Linked DNA regions of Homo sapiens. The protein of the gene in region 2 interacts with the protein of the main gene of each other region in a pairwise test. Each region holds a gene or a part of one and is shown on either strand. Other genes may lie near its edges.

Region 1 (6,888 bases), about 47 Mb from region 2:
TGCCTGGTTGGAGTGGGGATGCCCCTGTGTGGGCAGAAGGTAGGCAAGGATGAAGGAGCTGGGGCTTGGTGGTCCCTGGGTTATCCCAGGCTGACCTGCTTTTCTCCCTGACAGGCTGTTCTTCGCTGGAGCCCGAGAGGGCCACCTTCCCAGTGTGTTGGCCATGATCCACGTGAAGCGCTGCACCCCAATCCCAGCCCTGCTCTTCACAGTAAGGGCCCTTCCTGCTGTAACTCTCCACACACCTCCCTCTCTTTGTGCCTAGTCTAAGCTGGGAGTTCATGCTTTTCACACACACCCCTGTTACCCTTGCAGTCTGCTGCTAGGTCTCACTGGATCTTAGAGGATCTGGCAAATGATACCCATCATCTTTGTTAATATCAAGAGATATAGCAAGGAAAGATCCTGAGTCTTGAAATACCTAAGGCTCTCAGGCTGACTTATTTCCGTTCTCCCATCCTTTTGGGTCAGACTGAACTGACTGTCTCAGGATTCTACAGCCTCAAAAAAAATATATCTCCCTTGGCTCTCCTCGCACCTGTTACCACAGGGTTGCAGCACTGGCCTCTGCTCCTGGCTGGTTGGTCCCTGCAAACACCCACTTCCCCCATCAAGCTTCAGGGCAGCCTGCCAGTCTCTTGGGAAACATCATTGAAATGAAGTTAGTGTTAACAGTACACCAAATACGAAAAATAATAGAGGAAGACTGATAAACTGGAAACTGTGCAAAGGAAACTTGGGACAGGAAAGAGATGGGAGTAAAATATCCCCAGAGTAGAATCATTTTGAGAGAGCTATAGGAAGGAACAAAGACTTGTCCCCATTGAGTCTTTTGAGTTATTTTTATTTTCCTTCTGGATCCTGAATAAAACACTAAAAATGACTTTGGTCCACTGGTGAAGCAGTTAGCAATCAGAATAACAGAGCTCTTGGGAGCCAAGAGCATTTTACAGCATTGCTGTACAATTTCAGAATGTTCAGATGCAGGATGAAGGTCACCTTGACTGGTTGGTTGTCGAAGGTGGCTGGAGAAGACAGTACTCCCAGTGGGCCACACACATTTTTTTGTTTTGTTTTGTTTTGTTTTTTCCAGTTAGAGCTATTGGTGCAGTAGTGTGACTAAAAGGCAGATGTAGCAAGAACCATTAAAATCTTCTCGATTATTTTAACCATCGGATCTCACAAGAGAACAGAACCTTTTGTTGACCTTCACAAGTTATCAGAGGGGAGGAGCATGGTTCCAAGAGAGCCACAGAGATGATTTTGAAGTTGGAAAGTAGACTCTGTCAAGAAAACCTCATAGGGATGTTATGAGGGTTAAGTGAGTTAATCTTTGTCAAATGCTAAACATAGAGACCTGGCACACAGTAAGTGCTATGTAACCAGTTTTGAAATTAATAAAGAAAAGGAAGGAAGAAAAATAGATGACTCAGCCAGGAGAAAAGGATGAGGGCAGGAATACAGCCTTAATCTGTTGTTAACAATCTTCCCTAAGGGATTTTAAAAAAATGAATTTAGCTTGAGCTATAACCAACAGAGGCATACAAATGAGACCGGGGCTGACACAGAGCCAGGTAATACCAGTGTGGCCAGTCTAGCTGCTTATGTCCAGTATCCATTCTAATTGGCTAGTGCCCGTGCCATACGAGTGGTTAAATATTTTGATCATCACCCCTGTAATAAGAAAGGATTTCCTAGCAATAAAGATGTTGTAACATATTGGGTTACTAGGGGAGGTTCTAAAGTCTCCATTTCGAGACATCCATTATACGATGGCATCATCTGCCTGGAGGCTGGGGGACAGCCCCTAATCTGTAATACCAGTCTCTGAATATCTTTCGGATCACTGATGAGCTCCTCCCACTTTCCCAGTGCATCTCCACCCTGCTGATGCTGGTCACCAGCGACATGTACACACTCATCAACTATGTGGGCTTCATCAACTACCTCTTCTATGGGGTCACGGTTGCTGGACAGATAGTCCTTCGCTGGAAGAAGCCTGATATCCCCCGCCCCATCAAGGTGAGAGAAACTCCCTTTGGGGTCCCCTCCCCTTCCTCTATGGTTCTAGCTGCAGTTCAGATTTTTAAATCACCTCTGTTCTTAGCTGCTGACCACACGTCATCATCTCTGATGGTAGCAGACCCTTTGGAAAGCAAGGGCCATTTGTGAATGGGACCACTATTTCCATTCTCCACTGGGGATGAGATCGGAGCAGACTGCAGCTGGGGAATAAGTCAGATCAAATGTGACTTTCATCATGACATTCCTTTGTTTCCTACCAGTCTAAGCCTTAAACTCCAGCTGACTTTTCAAGGTTCTCTTATCTCCCCAACACTTCCTCCTTGTCCCTCCAGATAGCTGGGTTCACTATGTGCTATGTCTCCATCCCAGAATGACTTCCTCCTCCCATCTGCCCATCTACATTTTAACCATTTTCCAAATGCGCCTCAAGTACCTCCTCTTTCTTGAAGTCTTCCAGTCTACTGCAACCTCCCATGATCCTCCCTTTATAAACTCCCACAGTCCTACACATATAGGGTGCTCAGTGAACCTAATATTGCTACAAGATATAACTCTGTGATAGGAATTAAAGGGATTGCTCAGAACAGGACATGCTAGAGCATTATGAGTTCTCCTACGAATTAGAAGAATAGAGTGTACTCCAGAGCTATTTGAACAATCCTATTCTAGAAACAGTGACTAGATGCTTCTAGAAGATCCTTCCAGCTGAAAAATCAAAGGCTCTCCAAATCTCTCAGTTCCTCACTGGCATTTCCACCGCCATTTTCTACTCTCACACTTAGAAAATCTGCTAGAGGGAAGAGGAGGTAGAATAACCCCATGTCCCCACCACACACATCCCTTCTGAGCGAGGAAGACAAGGAAGAGAAAGGCAGCCGAATCAGGACTGCCCCTGGAGCCCTGAAGAGGATACTCTCAGGAACTCCCCACATGTGGCCCATAAGGAGCTGACATTTGCCATATTGTGCCCACATAAGGGCCCTGCACAGAAGTGGGCAAGGACCAGGGAGCCTGAGTGACTCGAATCGTCTCCTGCCTGCACCTTGTGCATTGCCACACCTCCCCTCCACCCTAGGACCTCAGCAGACACACCCATGTGCCAGCAAGCTTCTCCATCCCTGTGGGCTTCTCTGGCTGCCACGGGCACATGGCATGCATGATGAGGCCTTGTCTAACCACACCCAAGAGCGAGGACATGGGCAAGGAGGATCGTTTCCTCCCTAACTCCTCCCCATCCTCTTCCTGTCTGACCGACCATGTTCATCAACATTTGTTTATATAGCCCCTGCCCTACCAGGGGTGAGTGTGGGACCACAGAGCCGAGGGAAGCCCAGCCTTTGCCCTTGAGGATGTGTCTCTGTGGGTGAAGAAGAGAGAGAATGCCCCAGTCCCTAGTCCTGGGGGCCACGTGGCCTACACAGTTCATACGCCTCATGCCTCTGCTCCACAGATCAACCTGCTGTTCCCCATCATCTACTTGCTGTTCTGGGCCTTCCTGCTGGTCTTCAGCCTGTGGTCAGAGCCGGTGGTGTGTGGCATTGGCCTGGCCATCATGCTGACAGGAGTGCCTGTCTATTTCCTGGGTGTTTACTGGCAACACAAGCCCAAGTGTTTCAGTGACTTCATTGGTGAGTTGTTGGAGGCTCTGGCTGGCTTCAGGGCCTCCTGGGCTGGAATGCAGTGGTCAGTGATGGGGTTGGGGAGCCACCAGGGCCAGGAGATCTAGGCTCACCTTCTCCTCAGTCCACAGAGCCCTGGAAGAGTCCAGAGCAGGGGAAGCAGATGCCTTTTCCCAGAGACCTCTGAGGGTAGAGAACAGCTGGCATTTCCACACAGACCTTAGACCCGCAAGAATAGGCAACCTGGGCTGGGCACAGTGGCTCACGCCTGTAATCCCAGCACTTTGGGAGGCTGAGACAGAGGATCACTTGAGCCCAGGAGGTTGAGACCAGCCTGGTCGACATAGCAAGACTCCATCTCTGTTATTAAAAATTTTAAAATAAAATAGGCAACCTGTCAGCCATTCTGTGAGAGCTGCCCGAGGCTGGGTGGAGACCAGAGGAGACCCTGGACTTAGGGGTCAGTGGGCACAGGGAAGGTGGGAAGGCTGGGGCCTTCATAAGCAAAGAGTAGCCGGCGGGAGATGCAGGAGGCAGACCAGGTGGCGAGGATTCTCTTCAACGCACTGACTGCTCTGAAGAGGCAGAACCTGGAGCAGGAGAGCCAGGAAGGGCCGGGGCCACTTGGCCAGGTTGGTGGGATACTCAGCATTGGCCTGGTTTCTGTGTGATCTCTTCCTACAGAGCTGCTAACCCTGGTGAGCCAGAAGATGTGTGTGGTCGTGTACCCCGAGGTGGAGCGGGGCTCAGGGACAGAGGAGGCTAATGAGGACATGGAGGAGCAGCAGCAGCCCATGTACCAACCCACTCCCACGAAGGACAAGGACGTGGCGGGGCAGCCCCAGCCCTGAGGACCACCATTCCCTGGCTACTCTCTCCTTCCTCCCCCTTTTATCCTACCTCCCTGCCTTGGTCCTGCCAACACATGCGAGTACACACACACCCCTCTCTCTGCTTTTGTCAGGCAGTGGTAGGACTTTGGTGTGGGTGGTGAGAAATTGTAAACAAAAACTGACATTCATACCCAAAGAACCAGCCTCTCACCCCAGGGTCCATGTCCCAGGCCCCACTCCAGTGCTGCCCACACTCCCAGCTGCTGGAGGAGAGGGGAGATGCCAAGGTGCCCTGCAGGACCTCCCTCCGGGCCACACCCTCAGCTGCCTCTTCAGGAACCGGAGCTCATTACTGCCTTCCCTCCCAGGGAGGCCCCTTCAGAGAGGAGAGGCCACAGGAGCTGCATTGTGGGGGGACAGGCTCAAGCAATTCTGTCCCCATCAAGGGGTCAGCTGGAGAGACCCAAGACCCTATCTGTTCACCAGGGACCCAAAATCCAAGGGGATGCTTCCCTCTGCCCTCTTTCCTGCCCCTCCCCATCATACCTGCACCCACCCCAGCCAGGGCTCCCTGTCCAGAATTCGGTTCTCCTCAGGACGCCAACTCCCAGAGCTAAGGACCAAGGAGAAGAACAGCCTCTCCACCCCCAAGCCAGGCGGTTGAGGAACATATTGAGAAAGGTTCAGATTGCAGAAACCCAGCCCTGCCCCTGCCTCCTGCATCCAGCCCCCAACATGGTGCCAAAGCTTCCAGAAGCCAAAAAGCTTCTGATTTTTAAGGTAGTGGGCATCTCTCTCCTAATGACGAAGCTGCTCAGCAACTCCACCTGCCCGCCGCAGGAAGGAGCAGTCCCCTGCTATCCCTGCAGCCACTCCCAGCACACCCGCACACAGCCAGCACCACCGCCCCCACCGTGCACTTCTCCTCTCTGGGCCTTGGCTTGGGACCAGGTACGAAGGATCCCCAAGCCCTTCAGGCCTGAGATCAGAGCCAGATCAGCCTTAAGTCACCTCCCATCCAAGAACTTGGCCTAAAAATACTCCCCTATTTCTAACCCTCAGGACGGATCTGATATTAAATGCCTTCCCTGGGAGGAAGGGTGCTTTCCCCCTCCCTAGAGGTGCCCATTCCATACCCTGGGAGACTGAGGAGAGCATTGGCTGAAGCCCAGTTCCTTTCCCATCCATCCCCAACTCCAATAATCCCCCACTCCTCGCAGGTCTCAGTGTCATGCTGTCTTGGGGCAGGGTGAAAGGGTAGTGGCAGCAGGGCGCCCACTCTGGAGATCCTCAAAAAAGGCCCTCCTCTGTGGCTGGCAGCCTCTGACCTTTCCCTGGGCTTCAAAGGAAGGCTATGGAGTTTGCTGTGGGCCCTGCAACCTTCCCAGCCACTCCTGCTGCACTAAGGACTTAGGATCCTTTTATCACAAATCGGGATTCTCTCCCCCACCCCGAATTCTGTCTGCTTAAACTGGAATACACAGGAGCCCTTCCTGGCCTGGATGGTGTCTCCCAGCTTCCCCGCCCAGCTTGCCCACCCCATAGTTGGTGAGATGCCAAGTTTGGTCTGAGTTGTGACCCCTTCAGAGTAGATGCCCGGCAGGCTGGGGTTGGCCCCTGGAGGGTCAGGGGACCATCTTCTTATTCCCTCTTTTCTCATTCCTCCAACTTCCTCCCCTCCTTCAATTATTTTTTTGTAAAGTTGATGCCTTACTTTTTGGATAAATATTTTTGAAGCTGGTATTTCTATTTCTTTTGGATTTTTTTTAATGTAAGGTTGTTTTGGGGGATGGAGTTAGAACCTTAATGATAATTTCTTTCGTTTGGTGTAGGTTTTAGAGATTTGTTTTGTGGAGAGGTTTTTTTCTTTTGATGTAATAAAATTTAAAATGGAAATGAAGTTGGTGGTGTTGGTAATTAAGTAACCTTTTGAGACAGAGTCACCAGGCATTTCCTCTTAGGAGATCTTGCCAGGTTCCTTCCAGAATGACATTCCTAAAAGCTCTCGCTCTCTGTAACTTCTAGCTATCCTAGGGACTCAATGCCAGTGCATTCAAACCACTGACTCTCATTCTGAACCAAAAACATCAAAAGACAAAAGTACAACGAATTTACAGATCTCAATTGTTTACTGTAATTCTGGAATCAGGCAACACTTCATTCCATAAAATAGAATACATATTCCAATGAGTTGAGCAGAAGAGGTTGGCTTTACAGACAGGGAGGGCTGAAGAAAGCTGGTTAGTCACTTTTCGAAGTTGCTTTTCTTGGCCGGGCACAGCGGCTCACTCCCGTAATCCCAGCACTTCGGGAGGCCGAGGAGGGAGGATCTCTTGAGCCCAGGAGTTTGAGACCAGCCTGGGCAACATAGCAAGACCTCGTCTCTACAAAAGATAAAATTAGCTGGGCAT
Region 2 (7,022 bases):
GCTGTTATAAGAATAAATATTGTTCTTCTAAGATTTTTAATTAGTTGCTTCAGTTATTACATTTTTTTCTATTTTTTTTTTAAATAGAGATGAGGTTTTGCTATGTTGCCCAGGCTGGTCTCCTGGACTCAAGCAATCTCCCACTTCAGGCTACCAAAGTGCTGGGATTTACAGGCATGAGCCACCTCTCCCAGTCTCAGTTATTATTTTAATAAATGAGACTGAACGTCCTCTTATAAGGCTCACTCCCTTGTTCCTACTACATTTGCTCTGTTTAAGTATCTCTTTAAATTCTTCAGTTAAGATCATCCCTTTTATCAGAAACCTAGACACCACAAAGTAGCTTTCTCACCTTTAATTCTCCATAGGGATCACTATTATACTATAATATTTGCATACGTATGTGTATATATGTATTTGCTTTTTTAAAAAAGTAAAAATGCTCTTCTCACTCTTTGTCGATATAGGCACCCAGGTACGTAGTTAGAAATTAAATAAAGGCCACAATAATTTCCCAAGGAAGATCATTAAAAAGAAAAATCCTTTCTTCCTCTAATATCACATAGCTGGCCTTTATGGCATGCCAGCTAAGAAAAAAGGTATTGCCTATGGTGACAGGAAGACTCAATCTTTCTCTCTTTGGGTTGTAGCTGAATTTCTATCAAAAGTCCTAGTAAAATATATAACTCCTCATTTGTTCTAAGCCAAGTCTTTTCTTCAGTTTTCCTTCAAACAATACCTTTACTTTCCCATTAGAATATGAAGAATTGGAGACTGTGAACAGCAAGGTTTGGGGTGGGTATCAGTCACTTCAAATCTGGCTATGCAGAGAGAGGGAAAGACATGGCAGAATAGCAGGGGTGGAGGGTGAGTGAAATGTATCTTCATTGGGAGTATTGAAAGAGAGCAAGTTTTTCAAAGTTGTTGCCGGTATCTCATGAAAGCCCAGGCTGCTACCATGGTGAGGGCAAACACTGGCACCAGCACCATAAATATGGGAATACCACTTGGGTCCCCTTCACCTCGATGTCCTATAGGTCCATTCTGCACCTGTAACTGGAAGGGAAAGAAAAATGTTAACTCTAGTGACTAATGTGTGTTTGCAACTGAAACGCCCAGGTTGATACATCACCTGGGTTTGTAGACTCTAGACCACCCAAAACTGTAACCCCCAGCAATACCTAGCAGAAGGAGTCCTCTCTTTGTCCTGAGCTGATGCATCAGTGTCACAGGATCTTTGGAAAGAAAATAGGTCTAATGGGGAGGCATTTAACCTTGCTGACCTAAAGGGACCCGTGAGGGCAAGTCAGGTAATTTCTGTTTCTGTACTGCCTCTACCTTGCTATTTGTGTATCGTATCAGGAAAATGAAGACATGAGATAAAACCTATGATCTTATAGGGAACTTGGATATTACTTGGTGAGGAAGAAGGGGGATCTTTCTGGAAATGTTTACTTAGATAATCAGTCATCAAAATGTAGTAAGAGCAGATGTGGGCAATGTCAACATAGGTGCAATACCAACATACGTCCAATGCCATTACTTGAAAAATGCTTTCCAGATCCCAGAAGGCACCCAACTCCCTCCAAAGATGGGGTTTTGCCCTTCATCTGCTCATTTCTAATACTAGAGAGAGATGAAGGTGAATCTATATGGAACAGATGTAAAAAAGCAAAAAGAAATTATATCCTAGTGCTTATAATTTTCTATTGGCTAAGTGTTTCCTTTTGAGGCTGGATGGTCTTCATTTTAGTGATGGTTTTCAGGGTAGCTCTTCTTAATATCAACTTTTAGTGGCTAACTTGCAATAATTATGGCATCATCGTATTTCAGTTAAACTGCCTCATTACAACTCATAAAACTGACACTTCAATCTGAAAGGCAAGACTGCATGAAATACCATTATACCCTCTATTCCACCTCTATGTTTTTCATTCATTTGCTGATGAGCTGTCCTGAAAGGACATGCTCAATAAGAAGGCATGGTTTTTAGGGCTAGGCCAATTGCCTGAACATAAGGGTCTTTTTTATTAGGAATTATTTATGGATGTTTCCTTAAAAGTGAACACTGGAAATAACTTCTCACATACCTTCCAAAAGAATTGTAATCATATTGAAGTGTGTCCCTATATTTACTTGTTTTTATCTACTGCACAAATGCTCCCATGCTTTAGAAAGAGAAGAGCCAAGGCAGAAGCAACTGATGACCAATATTATCTCTTATTAACCTGTTTTCTAATCCATTACACCCAGATTCTGCTTGCAACTGGTTGTTTTCTCAGGTATCTTTCACGTTCTGCCTTCTCTACTTTTTTAGGAACTCCTCTAAATGTTCTTAAGCTTCTAAATCCTTAGCCACTGAGTGAGGAAGAGTGCACCTATTTAAGAAGTAGCAAATTGATTTAATTTAAAGGCACATGGAACCTGTTTTGTGAATATGCTCAGAAATTCTCAATGCTATAGGAGGAATTATATCTACCCAGGCTTCCCTTTACATCATCATCCAAATTATAAAACACTTGGAAATAAGAAACAGATGCAGGGATAGGTGCTGCCTTGACTGAATTCTGAATTCCATTTCCTTTTTCCTGGAGTTCTCCTATGAACACTAAAGATTTGGTTAAGAGGGTCACCAAGTTGATAAATGAAGGGTTCATGGCAGTGACAGGGAAAAGCATATAGTGGGTACCAGAAAACCCACCATCTTTGTAGTGTTTTATCCAATGGTTTTATAAATAAGTTTTCAGCGGTAGACATATGGTTCCTTCCCTACCAAAAAGTAAAATTGGCTACGTTTTTTTACCATCTTTTTAATTAATTAATTTATTTATTTTCCATTGGTCCATGTCACTCTTAAAATTTTTTATTTATTTTTATTATTATTTTTTTAAGAGATGAGGTCTCTCTATGTTGCCCAGGCTGGTCTTGAACTCCCGGGCTCAAGCAATCATACCACCTTGGCCTCCCAAAGTGCTAAGAGTACAGATGTGAGTCACCACACCTGGCTTTTCTTTAATCATCTGTTTTAATTTGGTTGTCAAGCTTTATCTTTAAGGCATATTATCTTGAAGCAAGGACCTTGGTTATAAGCCATACTGTTGTGAATTTCTCTTTTTTTTCTCTTTTTTTCTTTTTTTTTTTTTTGAGACAGGGTCTCACTCTCTTGCCCAGGCTGGAGTATAGTGGTATGATCTTGGCTCACTGCAACCTCTACCTCCTGGGCTCAAGCAATCCTCCCACCTTAGCATCCCAAGTAGCTGAGACTACAGGTGTGCACCACCGTGCCTGAATTTTTTGTATTTTTAGTAGAGATGAGGTTTTGCTATGTTGGCCAGGCTGGTCTCGAACTCCTGGCCTGAAGTGATCCGCCCACCTTGGCCTCCCAAAGTGTTGGGATTACAGGTGTGAGCCACCGTGCCTGGCCTGAATGTCCTTCAATGATAAGCAGAAGTACCAATGGACCCCTCCCTTTGCCTGAGAAACTCTTCAGGGGAGTGAGGGTAAAACAAAAAGCAACACTGAAGATTACACACATTGGGCTTATTCAGAAGTACAGTGCAAAAGCCTGGTGCCAGGTTTCTGGCTCAAAGTGATACCTACCCTGTGCTGCACTCTCAGAGACACAGCATAGCCTGCATTACGAAAGAGGTCTACAGCATCCTGGTGCAGCAGGTTCTTTAGGTCTTGGCCATTTACCTGTCAAAACACCAAAGAGTAGTAAGAAAGGAAGAAGGCTATTAGAAGTCAACAATTTATTTTCAAATGGCCAAACTTTAAATAACAAACTCCTTCAGAGCAAATTGCAAGGACTAGGAGTATGGGCAAAGTTACTTAGAGCTCAGAACTTAGAACTTTTTTCATTTTCAAAACTATGTTTTCCTAGAACTGAAGTTCCACAGGCCATCTGAAGAGAACCTATGTAAAATAAAAAGTGGTCTCTCCTTCCTCTTAGCTTCTATGCCTGTCTCGTTTTGACACTTGGGAATCTGTTACCGTATTAGCATTTCTTCCATGAGTGTTAACCTGCTTCCTTAAAGATAGCATGGTCTTCCAGGTTACCACCCTAACCTTTATATTCCTAAGCCCTGGCATTGCCAGCTGCAACTGTAGAAATATAACTCTATGAAACTCTCCACCAATTTATTTTGATGTCATATAAATCTATACTAGCCCATTCTATTGGGCTTTTCATAGTGAACAACTTCCTGTGATTCCACGGATACTCCTATCCATTATATCCAAATTAGTAAATTAGTCATTTTTTAATCAAAACTTAGTAAAAACCATATTCCTGTGATGATATAAATCCTTAAAAAAATTTCAGTGTAGGTCACTCCTACCACTTAGAGGTGAGAGATGTGAAGGAATACTTGTATTAATACTTTTTGCAGTTAGGAGTGACATCGGCCACAAGTAATAATCTATCTATCCTATGCTGTATTCAGTGACACAGCACAGCCCACTTAGTGCAAGATTACATATCTTTTATACTTGTCAATGTCATCGTTAACAGTAGCAGCAATAAGAACATCTGATATATTTCTTTTGATAGGTTCTGTACTTTACATACATTATCTCTTTTAATTCTCATGATAACCCTATGAGGTAGACATTATTTTTATCTCGTTTCCACAGATAAAGAAACTTGAAGCTCAGTGAGATTTGTGCTGGAGCTAGGGCTAGGATTTGTAAATAATGAAAGAAAGATCAAAGTGTCCTTGCATTTCACTGTTCCTTCTGCACTGTTATTCTTCCATCTTGACTCACCAACTATCCTCTGCTCAGCTAATGCTCAAGTCACTCCCTTACTCAACTCTCTCATTTTCCTTGTCGCAATCTTCCTTCTCCAAGGCACTCATAATCTTCCCTCTACTCTCTCTCTTGCCAATACAGTTGGTGAATGAATCTACCAACACTTCTGCCCTATAGACAGTCTACCTTTGTAAACCAATAGTTTCCAACTCCATTCCACTTCAGTCACCAATTGACGTAAACTTAGACTTCAATATTAGACATGCTTCAGCTCCAATATCTCAAACTCTTAAAAACCTGACAACAATTTCCACTCTTTTCATACTTTCTATTCATCTACTGAATTTCCTCCTTGTAACCTTTTTAGACTTTACTTGCATCCTTGCCCATCTAGGAGTTCCTGTTGTAATTTCAACAAAGCACTTGGTAAATCATTAGAATCCTTTGTCCCCAAGATCTTCTGCCATCTTTCCAGTCCTGGGCCATATTCTGCAATCCTTTTCTTGCCATCATTAAGTTGAATATTCTGGGAGAAAGGTATATTCTCATTCTCCACCATAGACCCATACTAGCTGACTCCAGCTCATCCTTAAAACCGCTTCTACTCATTTGCTGAACTCCTTAATAAACACGCAGTGATAGCTGTTCCAGACCTTTTTCCACCACCGTCTCCAACCCCATTTCTACCTCTCTCCCTAGCTGATTCCTTTATCTTTTGTGAGAACACTGAGGACTTCTGATAAATGCTTTCTACATTTTCTTTCCTTCTCCCTCAAAGTTTCTTTATATCTTCTCACTACTCCTTTCCCCTAGTCTCTGAATTAGATCTATTTCCTTTTCAAGGTGAAACCATCCACTGATGATCTTGATCATACTTCTTCTAACCTCCTTACAAAACTCACAGACACTCTGTCTTCTTGATTACTTAACTATTATCTTTCTCTGCTCCTTCTCTCAACTAAAATTATACACCTCTATAAAGAAAACAATACAACTATTTCTTGGAACGCATTATCACTCTCCTCCCATCTTCTTTCCTCTTTCTTTGACTGCTAAATTTGTTCTAAGAACTGTTTGCATGCACTACCTCTATTTCTTCAGCATTCATTCTCTATTCCCCTGTAATCTCACAATGTATGAGGTAGAAGGGAAGAACATGTTTTTCTAAAGGTCACCAATAACTTCCAATCACCAAATCCTATAGCCGTTTTTGTCTTCAGACCACCTCCTCCCTTTTGTAATTTTCTCCTATCTTGGCATATGAACACTTAGCATTCTTTGTTCTTAAATTATTCCTTTCCGGATTTCCTCTTCCCTTTCTTTCTCCTTAAGGTGAGTCAAGGTTTTTCAGTATCAATCCTCTATCTTCTTTCTTTCTCTCCCACTGTGAGCTTTAACAGTTTCAACCATAATCTGTAAGATAACTCCCAAATTTGTATCCCTACTTGTACTTCTGGATTTGCCAGTTTCTTGCTGGATGCCTACACCTGTATACTCTGCTAGACCCTAATTCAACATATCCAAAACCTCTTTATTACTTCCCACAAAAATCAGAATACATACCTTGCTTCTTATTGCCACTATCATTCCTTCAAACTTTTTTTTTTTTTTTTTTTTTTGAGACAGAGTCTTGCTCTGTCCCTCAGGCTGTCACAGTGGTGTGATCATGGCTGACTGGAGACTTGAACTCCTGGGATCAAGTGATTCTCCTGCCTCAGCCTCCGAAAGTGCTGGGATTATAGGTGTGAGACATTGTGCCCCAGCCCAGGCTAAAATTTTAATAATAGTTTTAAACTCTCTCTGCTGTCAACTTTCATATACAATAGATTGCCAAACTCCACAGTCTAACACTATGACATCTCTCATACAGTATTTTCTTTCCTATTGCCTATTTTAGGCTGTTGACACTAAAAACAAAACAAAAACTTGGGACCCCAATCCACCATGTCAAGAGAAAAAATTAAGCTGCAAGCTGAGTCATGCAATAAACTGCTTTTCCTTTTGTTCCCAAGCAGATAGCTACAGATAACAGGTTAAATATCTCCACAGGTAATTACTCTATGTTCACCTTATCTTATGTAAAGTCCCAACTTACTAAGCAAAAGAAAATACGTAATTGACTATTCCCTTGCCTGCTCCTTTCCTCTGGCAACATGTGGATTACCATACCTTCCCTCTTTGCTCTTCAGCCTACTTTAAATATTAAAGCCCTCAAAATCATCTTTGGAGAAAGGAACATACCTGTCTCCCAGGCATGTCCTTAACCTTGG
Region 3 (7,649 bases), on a different chromosome or scaffold from region 2:
TGAGACAGATTCGTGCTCTGTCGTCCAGGCTGGAGTGGAGTGATACGACCTTGGCTCACTGCAACCTCCGCCTCCCGGGTTCAAGCGATTCTCCTGCCTCAGCCTCCCGAGAAGCTGGGACTACAGGCACGTGCCACTATGCCCGGCTAATATTTGTATTTTTAGTAGAGACGGGGCTTCATTATGTTAGCCAGGCTGGTCTCGAGCTTCTGACGTCAGGTGATCCACCCACCTTGGCCTCCCAAAGTGCTGGGATTACAGGCGTGAGCCACCGCGCCCGGCCTCATCTCTAATTTTAAAAAAAGGAAATATTAATGCATATAATCCTCACAACAACCTTGACTACTGTCAACCCCACTTAACAGAAGAGGATCTGAGAAGCCCAGAGAGGTTGAGTAATTTACCAAGGATCACACAGGGATTACTGTCAGAGCTGGGATCCAAACTCGCTGAGTCTGGGTCCAGGGCCTTTGCTCTGAACAACCATGCTATGTTACTCCTCGTGTATTCATGAGTGTCTCCTCTGTGCCAGGCACTGTTCTCAGTGTAGGGGACAGAGCAATGGAAAAAACTGACAAAACCCCACCCTCGATGAGCTTATGGTCTTATGGGAAGGCAGGGACAATAAACAGAAGAGTAAAATACCAGGGCTGCTACCTGTGACAAGTGCCATAGAGAAACACCAATGGGGCGGGAGACAGGGAGTAGGAGGAATGTTAAATAAGGCCATCAGGGAAGGTCTCCCTGAAAAGGTGCCACTGGAACCAGAACTGACGGAGACAAAAGGACACTGGGGCTCTGGGAGAGCAAGTCATCTGCCTGAACTCCCCCTACGTCCCTGGAAGGAATAAGTGGCACAGGCAGGCGGGGCTGCTAGGCGGTTTACAGGACATGGAATCATGTTAAGACAAAAAGGCAGGTCTCTTCTGTGGCTTTCCCTACCCCTCTTACAGAGACCCCCTGCCAAGGCAGCGTGGGTGGGCCTCTTTGGCTCTTAATTAAACACCTGGCAAATTTGGAGAGCCCAGCTGGGCAGCACACTCCTACCTCCCGACGAGGGTGGGCGGCCAGAACAGACGACAGGGGAGGTTCTGGGCTCTGGCCAAGCCCAGACCCTCCCTGCACTGCTCCCAGGCCCTGCTGGGGACGCGTTTTCTCAGGCAGATGAGTTATCTTTTGTCCTAATCTCCTTTGAGGTTCTGATCCCACTTGGGTTTCTGCCGATTTTACCACGGTGCAGAAGAAACAAGGACAGCTCACGGGGCCCTGGGGCCTTGTGACTGTATATATTTACTGCAATTATAGTCATTTCTAACCTTAATTTAGGACACACCAGATGCCAGGTATGAACATATCTCATTTTACATTCATATTCTATGAAGTCTGAATTATTAACGTCCCATTTTACAGATGAGGGGCCTGAGATAGAGAGAAGGGAATTTGATCAAAGTCAACAACAAGTGAGTAGAGAGAGGAATCCAGGGAGTCTGAGGCCAACTCTTTGCCACTGTATACACACACACCGCTCCAGTGCCAGGGCCTGAGCTGGGGACAAGGTCAATGTGGCTGACAGGCAGGACAAGAGGCCATTCCAGATGAGTGCAGAGAAGACCCACAGCCATGGGGTGGAAGCAGGCCCAGTGGAGGCATCCGAGACCTCACAGGTCGTTAGAGAGGGCTTCCCGGAGGAAGGAACAGCTGGGCTGGGCCCTGAAGAATCATCAGGAGGCGGCACGGTGTGTGCAGAAGGTGCCACTCTGGAGAGGATCCCCAAGACCTGTGTGCCACCTGTCGGACTGGAGAAGGCAAGGAAGGAAGTTGATCTGGGCAGGAGGCATGATGAAAGCCTGGGTCCAATCCCCATCCGCTCCTTACTGAAAAGCTAGGAAACGGTCAGGAGATGTTCGCTGGGCCGGCGGCACTCCGCTGAGGCCTGCACCAGCTCATGGAGTTGTCTCCCAAACTCTTGCTGGGAAGGTGCTATTTTTGGCCCTCTAAAGGTCAGAAAACAAGCTCAAAAGCCTTCAGGACTCGGTCTGAGGTCACCGGGCGATGAATGGAGGGGCCCTGTCTGCACCCAGGCAAACAAAGAGGCTCCAGACTGCCAGGCCGGATGCGCTCCGGGCTGGACGCCGGCTCCGCGTGTCTGGGCTTGCCATTCCTGGACCGCCAGACTTCATTTACTACTATTTTTATTTAAAAAGACTCACTTGGAAGAAAGTGATAGATTTCTTGAAAGGAAAGCTGGTATGACTGCTCTGAAGGAAAACCAGTTTTCACTTAGCACCAATGGAAAGTGACGGAAATGAAACATAACAAACAGCACTGTGGGTTTCTTGCCCGCGGCTTCCCTGAGGACGCCTGCTCTTCCACTCAGAAGAAAAGGGAGGAGCAGCGAGCGTCGGGAGGTGTTCAAAACACAGCGAGACCCAGCCAGAAGGCCTGGACAACAACTCCGCAGGCAACGTGTGGAAGTTCAGACCAAGTCAGTCGGCTGCGCCCCAGCCTGGCTGAGGCTCTGCAGACCCGGGGCTCGGCCGAAGACTGCGCGACCTTGGGCAGAGCGCCACACCTTCCCGAGCCTCAGTTTCTCTGGCTGTCAACTAGGAGGATCGCTTCCTTGGCTTGCAGGGATTTGGGGTTTCGGGGACCCTGGAAGAGCTCGGTCCCGGGCAGCTACAAGTGCAAAGGCGTCCTTGGCGGAGGCGGCCGGACCCCGGCGCGGCCCTGCGGACGTCTGGGGACCTGGACACCGCCCGGGATCAGGGTCGGGGTGGGGTGCTTACCTGGTGGCCGCGGCAGTCCCCGCGCGCCGTGCGGAGCAGCCGGGCGTCTAGCCTGGGCGGGAGCAGGGCCAGGGCCAGGGGCGGCGGGGCGCAGGGGGCGGTGGCGCCCAGGAGCCAGGTGGCGCGAGGCCGGACCCGGGCGCCCACCCTGCCTGCCGGACCCAGCAACGCCAGCAACCCGGCCATGGTGCGCAGCTAGGCGCAGCACCCGCGCCGCTGACCCGGGAGGCGGGCGGAGGCCGGGGAGGGTGGGCGGAGCTGACCCGGCGAGGGCCCTCCCCGGCCCCGCCCGCCGGCTTCGCCGCCGCGCGCGCGCGCTGGGCGGGACTGAGGAGGCCTGTGCACATCCCCTTGGCTCACCCGCTAGCTCCGCTCCTCGGGAGCCGGAGTCCAGGGCTGGTGGGCGGGGCTGAAGGAGCGCGCCCCGCCTCCTCTCCGCCCACCAGCCCCGCCCCTTTGGGGGTGGGTGCAGGTCTTTTCAGGGTCTTGGGCTTTCTAACTGTGGTGTGTAGTTGGCGGGTTTCCTTATTCTGCGGGCACAAAGGTGGGCGTAGGGCCGTGGCTTATGAGCTTTTCTCCCTGCAGAAATGGGTGAAATCTGAAAAAAAATTATAGATATGTTTACGTGTTAGCTCCAAAGAAGAAAATAAATATGAGAATTGATATTAGTACATGTTTAATAAAAAGTCCTCTGACCCTCATAGATTGTTGGCGTGAATGTAAAGCGAAAGATGGTGTGGCAGTTTCTTGAAAAGTTAGACATACACTAACCATACAACCCAGCAACTCCACTCCTCGGTAGCTTCTCAAGAGAAACAAAGGCTCGACACTCAAAGACTAAAATGTGAAGACACCAATGTTTGTAGAGATCTTATAAATATTAGTCAACAATTAGGAATGCCCATAAACTGGGACGTACTGTGGCACAAGTCTTCAATGGGACGCAATGCAACAATTAAAGGGAACAGACTACTGATACATGCACAACATAAATGAATCTCAAAGCTCTTATGCCAATTGAAAAAATCTAGGCACAAAAGTCACACACTGGAGGATTCCAGCTACATGAAGTGCCCAGAATAGGCAAAATCACAGAGACCTAAAACAGATCCGTGGTGGCCTAGGGCTGGGAGTGGGAAATGAGATTGACTGCCAAGGAGTGGGAGGAACGTCTTGGGGTGAGGGAAGGATCCTAAACCCAGATTGTAGGGATGGTGACAGCTGTGTAACTAAAACTCGTGGGACTGTACACTTAACATGGATGAATTTTATGCTGTGTAAATTATACTTCAATAAAGATGTTCTGGCTGGGTGGAATGGCTCATGCCTATAATCCAAGCACGTTGGGAGGCTGAGGTGGGAGGATTACTTGAGCTCAGGAGTTCAAGACCAGCCTGAGCAACATAGCGAAACCCTGTCACTACAAAAATAAAAATAAATTAGCCTGGTGTGGTGGCATGCACCTGTAGTCCCAACTACTCGGGAGGCTGACGCAGAATTGCTTGAGCTCAGGAGGTCCAGGTTTCAGGGAGCCACGATGGTGCTACTGCACTCCAGCCTGGGTGACAGAGCGAGACCCTGTCTCTCTAGAAAAAGAAAAAGAAATATATTTTACAAAAGATGTAATATTCTATTAGTCAACTGCAATTCAACTCAACCAAGCTCTTACACAGGCACAGAAATGATATTAAACACATATGCATTAAAAAATATTTATTACATAAGATGGAGTTATAGCTGTGAAAGTAACAGGGTCTGTTGGAGGGAGGTCCTAAAGTGCCCCTGGATGGGAATCCTTCCATTTAAGTGTCTGCAAGAAGCTGGGGAAGAGTGCTTAAGGGTGCAGATTGTCTGTCAGGTTGGCCCTAGAAGTCCAGCTGTGTGATTTGGAAGTAGTGACTCAACTTCTCTGAGCCTTGGTCTTTTCATGTGTAAAATGAAGATAATAATAGTTTCCCCCATGAGATTGTTGAGATAATTCTTTGACACAGTTCTTGGAAAGGGCTTCACTCAGTGCCTGGTGCACAGAGAGGGCACACACGTTAGCTGGGATGTTGTAGAGATGCCTTGCCTGAAGCCCCTCTGTCACCCGGTGACAGTGCCACCTCCAGATGGCATCTGATCTCGACTTCCTCATGGTTCCCATGATTTTCTTTCTTTTTTTTTTTTTTTTGGAGATGGAGTCTCGCTTTGTCGCCCAGGCTGGAGTGCAGTGGCGCGGTCTCAGCTCACTGCAACCTCAGCCTCCCGGGTTCATGCCATTCTCCTGCCTCAGCCTCCCAAGTAGCTGGGACTACAGGCGCCCGCCACCACGCCTGGCTAATTTTTTGTATTTTTAGTAGAGACGGGGTTTCACTATGTTAGCCAGGATGGTCTCGATCTCCTGACCTCGTGATCCTCCTGCCTCGGCCTCCCAAAGCGCCCGTGATTTTCTTGTCACCAGGCCTTCTTCATTCATTTAAGTTTCCTGCCCAGGCTTCATGGGCAGTTGAGTTTGTGATTCATGCTATATGCTTATTAGAGAAGAGAAAAAGGTAATTTTGTTTTTCCCTTTAAATTTGACAGTAAATATAATACTGTAATTATAGACTTTAGGTTCTTTTTTTCTTCTTCTAAAAGTGAAGAAACTTTTGCTTTTAACAAAATGTATTGGAGCTGCTGCCTGCCTGAACTTGTGACAGTTTTGTTTTTTTCTTATTGTGTCAGCTCTCTTTGTCTCTCTAGAGCAGCAGCTCATGCATGAACTATATTTATTTTAATTTCTTCATTTTCATGAATAGATAATGTGTTCTCACGGTTCAGATTTTTAAAGGTACAAAAAGTCTACACAATGACAAGCTTCCTTCCTATCCCAGTGACCAGTTCTCCTCATTTTTTTCTCCCTAGAGACAAACACTGTTACCCGTTGCTTGTGCATATCCTTCTAGAAAATTTTACATGTGTGCAGGCAAATTCCTATGAACGGTTTTCATTGCTGTTTTTACCCAAGTGGGGCATAGTATACACAGTGTTCTTCACCTGGACTTTTTTTGCTTCCATTATATTTTAGAGTTTTCTGAATATGTACACAAAAATCTTCCTTATTCTTAAAATCTGCTTAGCATTCCAGTGTATTCCAGGGTGCTGTAATGCTTTAACCAATCCCTTGTGGGTGGACCATTAGGGTATTTAGGGTATTTTCCAGTCCTTGTGATCATAAACCATGCTGTGATGAACCAGCGGGTATTTCTGTCACTTGCCGTGTTTAAGTATGCCTGTGTAATAAATTCCTCAAAGTGAAATTGCTTAGTGAGAAGATATGTGTATTTGTAAATTTGAATAAATGGCAAAATTTCACTCCATAAAGGTTGCAGAGTACAGCAAATGAGAGTTTTTTGTTTGTTTGTTTGTTTTGAGATGGAATCTTGCTCTGTCACCCAGGCTGGAGTGCAGTGGTGTGATCTCAGCTCACTGCAGCCTCTGTCTCCCAAGCTCAAGTGATCCTCCTGCCTCAGCCTCCTGAGTAGCTGGGACCTCAGGAGTGCACCACCACGCCTGGCTAATTTTTGTATTTTTAGTAGAGACGGGGTTTCACCATGTTGGCCAGGCTGGTCTCAAACTCCTGGCCTCAGGTGATCCGCCCGCCTCGGCCTCCCAAAGTGCTGGACTTACAGGCATGAGCCACTGCGCCTGGCCAAGAGTGTCTATTTACCCCGACTCTAAATGGTGTCTTTAGCAGAGAAATGTAGGACTGACTTTTATGATCTTAACTTGAGAATCTGACATTAAAGGCAGCCATATAAGGCCAGGCGCGGTGGCTCACGCCTGTAATCTCAGCACTTTGGAAGGCCAAGGCAGGCTGATCACCTGAGGTCAGAAGTTCGAGGCCCGCCTGGCCAACATGGTGAATCTCAGTCTCTACTAAAAATACAAAAAATTAGCCGGGTGTGGTGGTACATGCCTGTAATCCCAGCTACTCAGGAGGTTGAGGCAGGAGGTTGAGGAGGAGGTTGAGGCCCCTTGAACCCAAGAGGCGGAGGTTGTGGTGAGCCGAGATCGTGCCACTGCACTCCAGCCTGGGCAACAAGAGTGAAACTCCATCTTAAGAAAAAAAAAAAAGGTCTTCATCCTTGTCATCTTTGCATTGAGCTGGCTGAGGAGGAAAAGGAAGAGGAAAGGTTGTTCTTGCTGTCTCAGGGGTGACAGCGCCTATAGTGACAGCTACTCCGGAGGCTGAAGTGGAAGGATTGCTTGAGCCCAGGAGGCAGAGATTGCAGTGAACTATGATCACACCCCTGCACTCCAGCCTGGGCGACAGTGAGACCCAGTCTCAAAATAAAATAAAATAGTAAAATAAAAAATAATAATTAAAAAAGCAGGCAAGAAGTGCCTTTCAAGGTATTAAAATATGAAGCTGTTTTCTTCTTTTCGTAATCTCTCTCCCTTGAGTTGTCATGGTGATTTTTACTGCCTATTTAACAGTGTCCTTCTATTTTTTTTTTTTCTGAGACAGAGTCTTTCTTTGTTGTCCAGGCTAGAGTGCAGTGGCATGATCATGGCTCACTGCAACCTCAACCACCAAGGCTCAAGCAATCCTCCTGCCTCAGCCTCCTGAATAGCTGGAATTACAGGCGCATGCCACCATATCCTGCTAATTTTTTTAGTTTTTATAGAGATGGGTGCTATGTTGCCCAGGCTGGTCTTGAACTCTTAGCCTCAAGCGATCCTTCTGACTTGACTTCCTAAAGTGTTGGAATTACAGGAGTAAGCCACTGTGCCAGGCCAAAAGGAACTTTTTGAAGGTCACAGGGTTCCATCTGCAACCTTCATTCCTTTGCCTTGTAACATGACACATTCGCAGTTTCTGTGGATTGGGACGTGCAC
Region 4 (7,376 bases), on a different chromosome or scaffold from region 2:
ATTACAGGCAAACACCACCATGCCTGGCTACTTTTTGTATTTTTTTTTGGTAGAGACAGGGTTTCACCATGTTGGCCAGGCTGGTCTCGAACTCCTGACCTCAAGTGATCTGCCCTCCTCAGCCTCCCAAAATGCTGGGCTTATAGGCATGAGCCACCACACCGGCCATCCCTATTATTATTATCCCATTGCACAGATGAGAAAACTGAGTGTAGAGCTAGAGTTAGGTTACAAGCCCAAGACCACATGGTTAGGAAGTGCCAAGAAGCAGGTCCATGTCAGGCTTATTCACCAGACTCACCTGGAGGGTGGGGAGAGACTCGTTCCTCCTGCCTCCTCCCCATCTCTGCTCAGTCCCCCTGACCAAGATTCTTCAGAGTTCGGTGTCCCTCAGCGCCCATGCCCTACCCCTTCCTTCTCACCGGGGCCCTTCTTATCATCAGTCACTGCATCCTGTTCCTCCCTTGAAGCCCCCAGATGAGTTCTCAAGGCCACCACCAAGTCATCACCTTCCTCACTCCTCTCTCCAGTCTCAGGCCTGTTCTATGGGGAACCCACTCTGTCCCGCGGGAAAAACCCTCAGCAGGCGGTTCCTTGTGGGGGCTCCAGAGAGAGGTGAAGGAGGCCACGCGGGGCACCGCCTGCTGAGCGGGAATCCCGTCCCTAACCGCTGGCGCCCCTCGAGGGGAGGGGCGAGGGCGGAGGTGGTTCTGCTGCGGCATCTGTCCCAGGCGGGCGGGAAGCTGCTGCATTAAATTGTAAAATCGATTTATTGACCGGCAGGTGCGAGCAGCGGCAGATGGAGAGTAGCCCTGCCGGGGCGCATCTGCGGGGAGCGGCGGCATCGATCCCGGCCCCCCTCTGAAACCCGTCGGTCCTGGGCCTTTCTCGCCAGCTCACTCCCAATTGTAGGGCCAAGGTCCTTGAAACTGCGGCGCCTGAATGGCTAGGGTAGCTCGACTCCCTCCCCCAACACCCTCCTGGCCTCAGGCCCCGGGCTGCGCCCCCACGGCTGCCAGGCTCTGCCAGTCCCACTGCCCCAGTTGGCACGCGGCGGGCCGGGCTGACGCGTGGCAGCGCCCTGCGGCAGATGAGGCACGCGCCGGCCTCATTTCAATGTGAATGGATCGAATGGAGCAGCCATGTGGCAGCAACAGTTTGCAAATCTCCACGCCTTCTGTGCAGCTCCCCGGCCGCCGCTCCCTGCACGTGGCCCCTTCTCCGCAGCGACCGCAGCGGCGCCCCTCAAGGCTTAAGCGCCCCGCCCAAGCCAGGCCTGCTTCCCCGCCCCTGGTCTGCCCAGCAGGCACGGTGGCCCGGCCCCCACCGCGCTCCTACCCGGGTGCAGTGTGCCCCGCGAAGAGCGCCGTCCCCTGAGAGGGGGTTGGGGAGAGGAGAGGCAAAACCGCGCTGAAGGTCTCGGAGCTGCGCCTGCGGCCGTGGGGAGGGCACAGAGGCTACGCTGCGGGGGAGGAGTCCCGAGGCTCTACGAGGCTCCTGTTGCGCCCCAATAACCTGGGGTCAGCTTGGGGACACCGCTGGAAGGCGACCTTAGCGCTTCCCGGTCCTCAGTGCCGGTTCTTATGGCTGGAGGACTATGCGCAATGGCCAAGCGTAGGGGGACAGCAGAAGCAGAAGGCCTCTAGGGGCAGAGGCGGTGGGCCTTTCATGAAGCCAGGCCTCGACCCTGCGCCCGCTTCCGACGTTGGGGAGTGTTGAGGGTGCGGGTCGAATTGAGGAACCCTGGGCCTGCGGAGGGTCAGTGGTCTTTCGGACTCTGGGTCTATCTGTGCACCCTTTCCATGCTGTTGTGGAGGGTCTGCGTCAGGGGCGGGGGCAGCCGACTTCGATGGGGGTCCAGCCCCACGGTGATCGGTGGCCTCCCATCCCAGGACCACGCGTGTAGCGTTCTTCCGCCCGCAAGTCCGAAAGTCCCGAGTGGGAGAAGAAGGAAGGCGCAGCCCCAGTTTTGGGCTGACAGAAACACTTGCGGCCTTCGCACTGGGCTCCCCACCCGCAGCATGACCCTCTCCTGCTCAGCAAATGTGGGCAAAGCTCGACCGCAGCGTGTGGGAGCGCTCGTAGGTACCCAGGGCCAAGGGTGGCAGTGTCCTAGCCCGGGAATGAGCTTCTGGGACAGCGCCTCCGCAAATAGGTGTTTCATGAATGTCTTTTGATGCTGAGAATTTAACCCTTTCCTCTTCTGGTCAGAGCCTTTCTAGATCTCTGGGATCTCCTGGGTGCTGCCTCTCTGAAGATAATAATCCCAACTTTTGTTTGGTCCTTGATAATTTGCAAAGTACATTTGGGCACATTAGTCTGGGCGTGTATGAGGGTAGAGAGTGTTCCAGATTTTCCAGTATTGGGAGAGATGCCTTGTGTGGGACTAGATGTCTCCCTTGAGGGTCAGGTAAGCAGGACCAGCGCCAGAAAAGGAGGATGTTTTTATTAACTCCTGGGCCAGGATTTGGAGTTGAGAGAGGACAGGGCTAGGTAGGGCTGGATGCCAGCTTGGAGGGGAGCAAGGGGCACCCGCTGGCATCTTAGAGAGGCAAGTCCAGGGATCCATAGGGTATAGGCGGAGAGAAGATCTGGGAGCCCACTTGCCAGGATCGCCGGGAGGCACGCCCCGGACTCCCCCTCCCTCGGGCCTGGGACTCCGCCTGCCCATAACCTACATTAACTCCCGAGCGCAGCCTGGGCCCATCTGCCGCCCCGCCCCACCTCGGTTCCCCACGCCAACCCGCTCGCGCCAGATGGTGGCTGGGAGGGGTGGCCGTGCGTGGGGGACCCCGGAGCCCGTCTCCTCACCTCGCCCCTCCCCCAACCCACGCTCCCAACCTCTTGTTTCTCATCCTTCCCCCCCCCACCACACCCGTCCCCCAGTCCTCCACCACCACCACCCAACTCAAAAAAAAAAATCAGACCATGCTCGGCATTGGCAGCTGTTGGGCTTCTCGCCGCTCCCCCACCCTTACCGCCTCCCCCGGGTTCGCGCCGCGTCCCGGCTCCCCCCCCGCGCTGATCTTACCGCCCGACTACAGCCATCACCTCGCGGGCGGGCTGACAGCTGAAGCCACAGGGCCCCCGCTGCCCTCGGCGTCGCAAAGAGAGAGCTCCCCGGCACCCCTGAGACTGGGAGAAGCCGGCCCTCCCCGGTCTGCGGTCTCCGGGGATCACGCCGGGTTCCGAGAAAGCAGCTGCGCTGCTGCCGCTTGGAGGAGTGGGGCCACCCAGGGGACCCTCTCGGGCGAGACTTGGGAAGCCGCCTGAAACTCAAACAGCTCCGCAAGCCTCCAGTTCCACCCCACATCCCGCCTTATGAGGCGAGGACCCGGGCCGACCCGGCCTCAGTCCCTCACCTTGATTCTCCAGTGGCCTGAGCCAACTCTGGCGTCAGGAGAGTTCCTCCTTGCCCCAGCTGAGCGACAGGGCGCGGCCGGGGGCTTGGGGCTGCTGGGGTGGGGGGAGGCAGTGGGCGCAGGAACTGAAGCTGGACTCAGGTGAGGGGACGCGCTGGAGGCGGGGCCAGAACCTCATTACCATACAGCTGAGGACGCGCCCCCCTCCTACCTCCGGGACCACGCCCCGCCCTCCCCCACCTCAGGGACCGCGCGTCTGGGTCTCTGGCACGCGCCAAGCCCTGGCAGGGGGCAGAAGGGAGAAGGCACGCGCTGGGCACGCCCCCCCTTAGCTAGAGAGGGAGACGCCCAACAGGTGCACAGAGAGGGCCCCGAGCCTTAGACCCTTAGCCCCTAGCCTTGCTCAGAGTGGCCACAGAGAGGTTAACGCTTCTGCTGGCTTCCCTGCTGCGCTGGGGACGCGTGGTGGGTGGGCACTCATAGGTTGGGGGCCGTTGAGACAAGGGCTCCAGAAGCTCCAGGAAGGAAAAGGAGATCGGATTTCCCTAGCGCTGGTTTTTGCATTCCGGGCTTAAGTTCTTTTTACCTGCTTTGGAACACTAGGTAACTAGCGCCTGCTGCGGATGCACAGCCTACAGGGACTGCCTAGTGTCTCCGCCCCCAAGACCATCCCCGAACCACCCACTCACCTCCTGCCCCATTACCGGGCAACCCCTCTATCCTCCGGCGGCCAGGGTCTCAGCCCTTAACCCCGCCATCACGGAGGACTGGTCACCTCGGCACGCGCAGAGCTGGGGGACCTAGAGGTTGGGAGCGGCACGGAGGGGCGGGGACCTGCGCCCGACTGGCTGACGGGGAGGGGGGAGCGGCGGGGGCGGAGGCCCCCTCCGGGCGGCGCTGGGACTGTAGCAGCTAGAGGCCGGGAGGGGAGGGGAGAATGACCATGAGTCTGAGTGACAGGCGGCGAGGAGAGGAGCCAATATATATAAGGAAGGCCCCCAGCGCGCAGGTTTCAGTAGCGGCGCTGCGCGCAGGCCGGGAACACGAGGCCAAGAGCCGCAGCCCCAGCCGCCTTGGTGCAGCGTACACCGGCACTAGCCCGCTTGCAGCCCCAGGATTAGACAGAAGACGCGTCCTCGGCGCGGTCGCCGCCCAGCCGTAGTCACCTGGATTACCTACAGCGGCAGCTGCAGCGGAGCCAGCGAGAAGGCCAAAGGGGAGCAGCGTCCCGAGAGGAGCGCCTCTTTTCAGGGACCCCGCCGGCTGGCGGACGCGCGGGAAAGCGGCGTCGCGAACAGAGCCAGATTGAGGGCCCGCGGGTGGAGAGAGCGACGCCCGAGGGGATGGCGGCAGCGTCCCGGAGCGCCTCTGGCTGGGCGCTACTGCTGCTGGTGGCACTTTGGCAGCAGGTAACACGTCCCGCGCCCTCTCCGTCCCCTCTGCCGCGCTCTGGGCCTCAGCCCCGGGCACCAGCTGAGCTGACCGGTCCCCTCCCTCCTTCCCTCGGTCCCTGTGCAATAGCGCGCGGCCGGCTCCGGCGTCTTCCAGCTGCAGCTGCAGGAGTTCATCAACGAGCGCGGCGTACTGGCCAGTGGGCGGCCTTGCGAGCCCGGCTGCCGGACTTTCTTCCGCGTCTGCCTTAAGCACTTCCAGGCGGTCGTCTCGCCCGGACCCTGCACCTTCGGGACCGTCTCCACGCCGGTATTGGGCACCAACTCCTTCGCTGTCCGGGACGACAGTAGCGGCGGGGGGCGCAACCCTCTCCAACTGCCCTTCAATTTCACCTGGCCGGTGAGCACAGCCTGGGCGCACTGGGAGGTCGCAGAAGCCGAGAGAGGAGGCGCCCTGGGACCAAAGCCCCCTCCCCAGATTTCCTTGTACACACACCCCCACCCCCAAAAAGCCCAGGATGCATTCTTTCCTGGCTCTTCCCGACTCTCTCCTGAGACTGATCCCAGAAAAGGCTCTCACCAGTCTCCGTCTTCCCAGTTTATGTCCTCCCGTCCCCAGCTCTTGGGACACGATTTTCATTACCTACCACTCTGGGGCGGTACCCTACCACCCCCTCCTCCAGTGGCTCTCCCTTACACTCTCCCGTCTCTCAACCCTCCCTCTACCGGGGGTTCTCCTCTCGCCTTCCCTGCTCAAGCGCTACACTGTGCACAGCCCCGTTATGTTGACCCGGGCGCAGTAACTGAATCCTGCAATTAGATTAATTAAACAGGCTGCCGCAAGGCACCCCCACCTCTCCCCGCTTGCTCATCTCGCCATCTCTCCGTCCCCCCACCCCCTTTCCCAGGGTACCTTCTCGCTCATCATCGAAGCTTGGCACGCGCCAGGAGACGACCTGCGGCCAGGTGAGTAGCTCGCTCCGCCACCACAGGGGGGCGACACGGCGCAGCGCCGAAAGAGTTAATCTGTTCTAGGCGGGGGAAGTGCGGGCTTGGGGGTGGGAGGCAGGACGCTTAGCTTGGCCTGGAGCTGCGCCCCGCGCTGGACGCTCGGATTCCGCTCGCTGCCTGGACTCAGAGCACAATTGCGTTTCCTGCGGGTTATTTTTGGCGTGGGAACGCGGGGAGTACGGCGGTGAGAAAGGCTGAAGCTGCCAGCGCCGCTGACGGGCCCCTTCCTGTATTTTACACCTTTCGCGAATTCCGCTCCTTTGGAAAGGGAATAATGGCTTTGGGATGTTGTTCTGACACAGAGGAAAAGGATATTTCAGCAGCACAACAATTCTCACTTTGAAAAGGAAAAAAGAAAACCATTACCCACCTCTGGAGGCAGAACCCCTGAATGGGCACCAAAGGACCCCCTGCTCCCAGGGTCCTCTCTAGCCTGGGGAGCTTTTCTTTCTTTTTCTCTTTTTTCCATTTTGACCTCTTTTCCTCTTTCCCCTCCCTATCTGCCTCCAAGACCCTGGGATATCTTAACATCCTTCTATTGTCCCCTTTTTGAATACTATCAGGCCCCCTGCACATGCACACACGTAGGGCAGCTACGTAGCGGGGCTTTGGGTCCCTCTGGCCTGTTCTTGCTGGCAGGCGGGGGTCATCTGGATAACTGGGCTGATTGGTTGGCTGATCACCATCATCACAGCCAAGAAGGACATTGGCCAGCCGTCACTGGCACCCTTGGGGACTGGCGACCCTTCCCTGACCCGACCCTCTGCCCCCTCAGAGGCCTTGCCACCAGATGCACTCATCAGCAAGATCGCCATCCAGGGCTCCCTAGCTGTGGGTCAGAACTGGTTATTGGATGAGCAAACCAGCACCCTCACAAGGCTGCGCTACTCTTACCGGGTCATCTGCAGTGACAACTACTATGGAGACAACTGCTCCCGCCTGTGCAAGAAGCGCAATGACCACTTCGGCCACTATGTGTGCCAGCCAGATGGCAACTTGTCCTGCCTGCCCGGTTGGACTGGGGAATATTGCCAACAGCGTAAGCAGTCAAGCTCCCACCTGTGTGGAAGGGGAGGGTCCCCTGAGGAAACACAGTGGAGCTTCTTGGTCACAGCTTGCCTCCCTTGAAGAGTGGGTCTGGGCCTCCTACTAGCTGGGCCTCAGGGATGCTGAGGGTGGGCTTGACCTCAGACCTCCTGTCTCTTCCCAGTGCTCCTCCCATCATGCCAAAGCCCACAAGAACCCCATCATGACATTCCATCCAGTTTGGCTTCTCCTTCCCTGTGCCATTATTTCACTTTAAGACACTCGGGGCTCCTCTGGGAGGCCAGGAGTAGGAAGAGGGCCCAGGAGAGCTAGGGGATCCCCAGGGCCAGCAGGTGAGAATGGGGCTTAAGAGTCCTTGGTATCCCAGCCTCACCCAGCTCTGTGTTCTTCCCTTAGCTATCTGTCTTTCGGGCTGTCATGAACAGAATGGCTACTGCAGCAAGCCAGCAGAGTGCCTGTGAGTAGGGGACAGGAAGTGGTGAGTGGGAGCCCTCCCTTGGCCAAGGCCTCTCACCTCACTCTGCCTCTCTCTTGTTCCCCAGCTGCCGCCCAGGCTGGCAGGGCC

What was found.
Region 1: the proteins of SYNJ2BP (region 2) and SLC7A8 interact in binary tests that used the Homo sapiens proteins (3 or more experiments, as listed by UniProt).
Region 3: the proteins of SYNJ2BP (region 2) and FAM210B interact in binary tests that used the Homo sapiens proteins (3 or more experiments, as listed by UniProt).
Region 4: the proteins of SYNJ2BP (region 2) and DLL4 interact in binary tests that used the Homo sapiens proteins (3 or more experiments, as listed by UniProt).

Annotation. Positions count from the first base shown.
Region 1 is NC_000014.9:23,124,784-23,131,671, reverse strand, and holds the end of SLC7A8 (large neutral amino acids transporter small subunit 2), read left to right. Parts: intron 1-114; coding exon 115-211; intron 212-1,872; coding exon 1,873-2,022; intron 2,023-3,307; exon of another isoform or gene 3,308-3,475; coding exon 3,476-3,653; intron 3,654-4,328; coding exon 4,329-4,495; 3' UTR 4,496-6,377; downstream 6,378-6,888. UniProt on the Homo sapiens protein: Associates with SLC3A2 to form a functional heterodimeric complex that translocates small and large neutral amino acids with broad specificity and a stoichiometry of 1:1.
Region 2 is NC_000014.9:70,372,076-70,379,097, forward strand, and holds part of SYNJ2BP (synaptojanin-2-binding protein), read right to left. Parts: intron 3,697-7,022; coding exon 3,601-3,696; intron 1,057-3,600; coding exon 916-1,056; 3' UTR 1-915. Other genes in the region: SYNJ2BP-COX16 protein, read right to left, coding at 958-1,056, 3,601-3,696. UniProt on the Homo sapiens protein: Regulates endocytosis of activin type 2 receptor kinases through the Ral/RALBP1-dependent pathway and may be involved in suppression of activin-induced signal transduction.
Region 3 is NC_000020.11:56,354,329-56,361,977, reverse strand, and holds the start of FAM210B (protein FAM210B, mitochondrial), read right to left. Parts: upstream 3,005-7,649; 5' UTR 2,973-3,004; coding exon 2,787-2,972; intron 1-2,786. UniProt on the Homo sapiens protein: Plays a role in erythroid differentiation. Involved in cell proliferation and tumor cell growth suppression. Involved in the metabolic reprogramming of cancer cells in a PDK4-dependent manner.
Region 4 is NC_000015.10:40,924,964-40,932,339, forward strand, and holds the start of DLL4 (delta-like protein 4 precursor), read left to right. Parts: upstream 1-4,376; 5' UTR 4,377-4,705; coding exon 4,706-4,771; intron 4,772-4,883; coding exon 4,884-5,153; intron 5,154-5,661; coding exon 5,662-5,719; intron 5,720-6,539; coding exon 6,540-6,803; intron 6,804-7,207; coding exon 7,208-7,268; intron 7,269-7,353; coding exon 7,354-7,376. UniProt on the Homo sapiens protein: Involved in the Notch signaling pathway as Notch ligand. Activates NOTCH1 and NOTCH4. Involved in angiogenesis; negatively regulates endothelial cell proliferation and migration and angiogenic sprouting. Essential for retinal progenitor proliferation.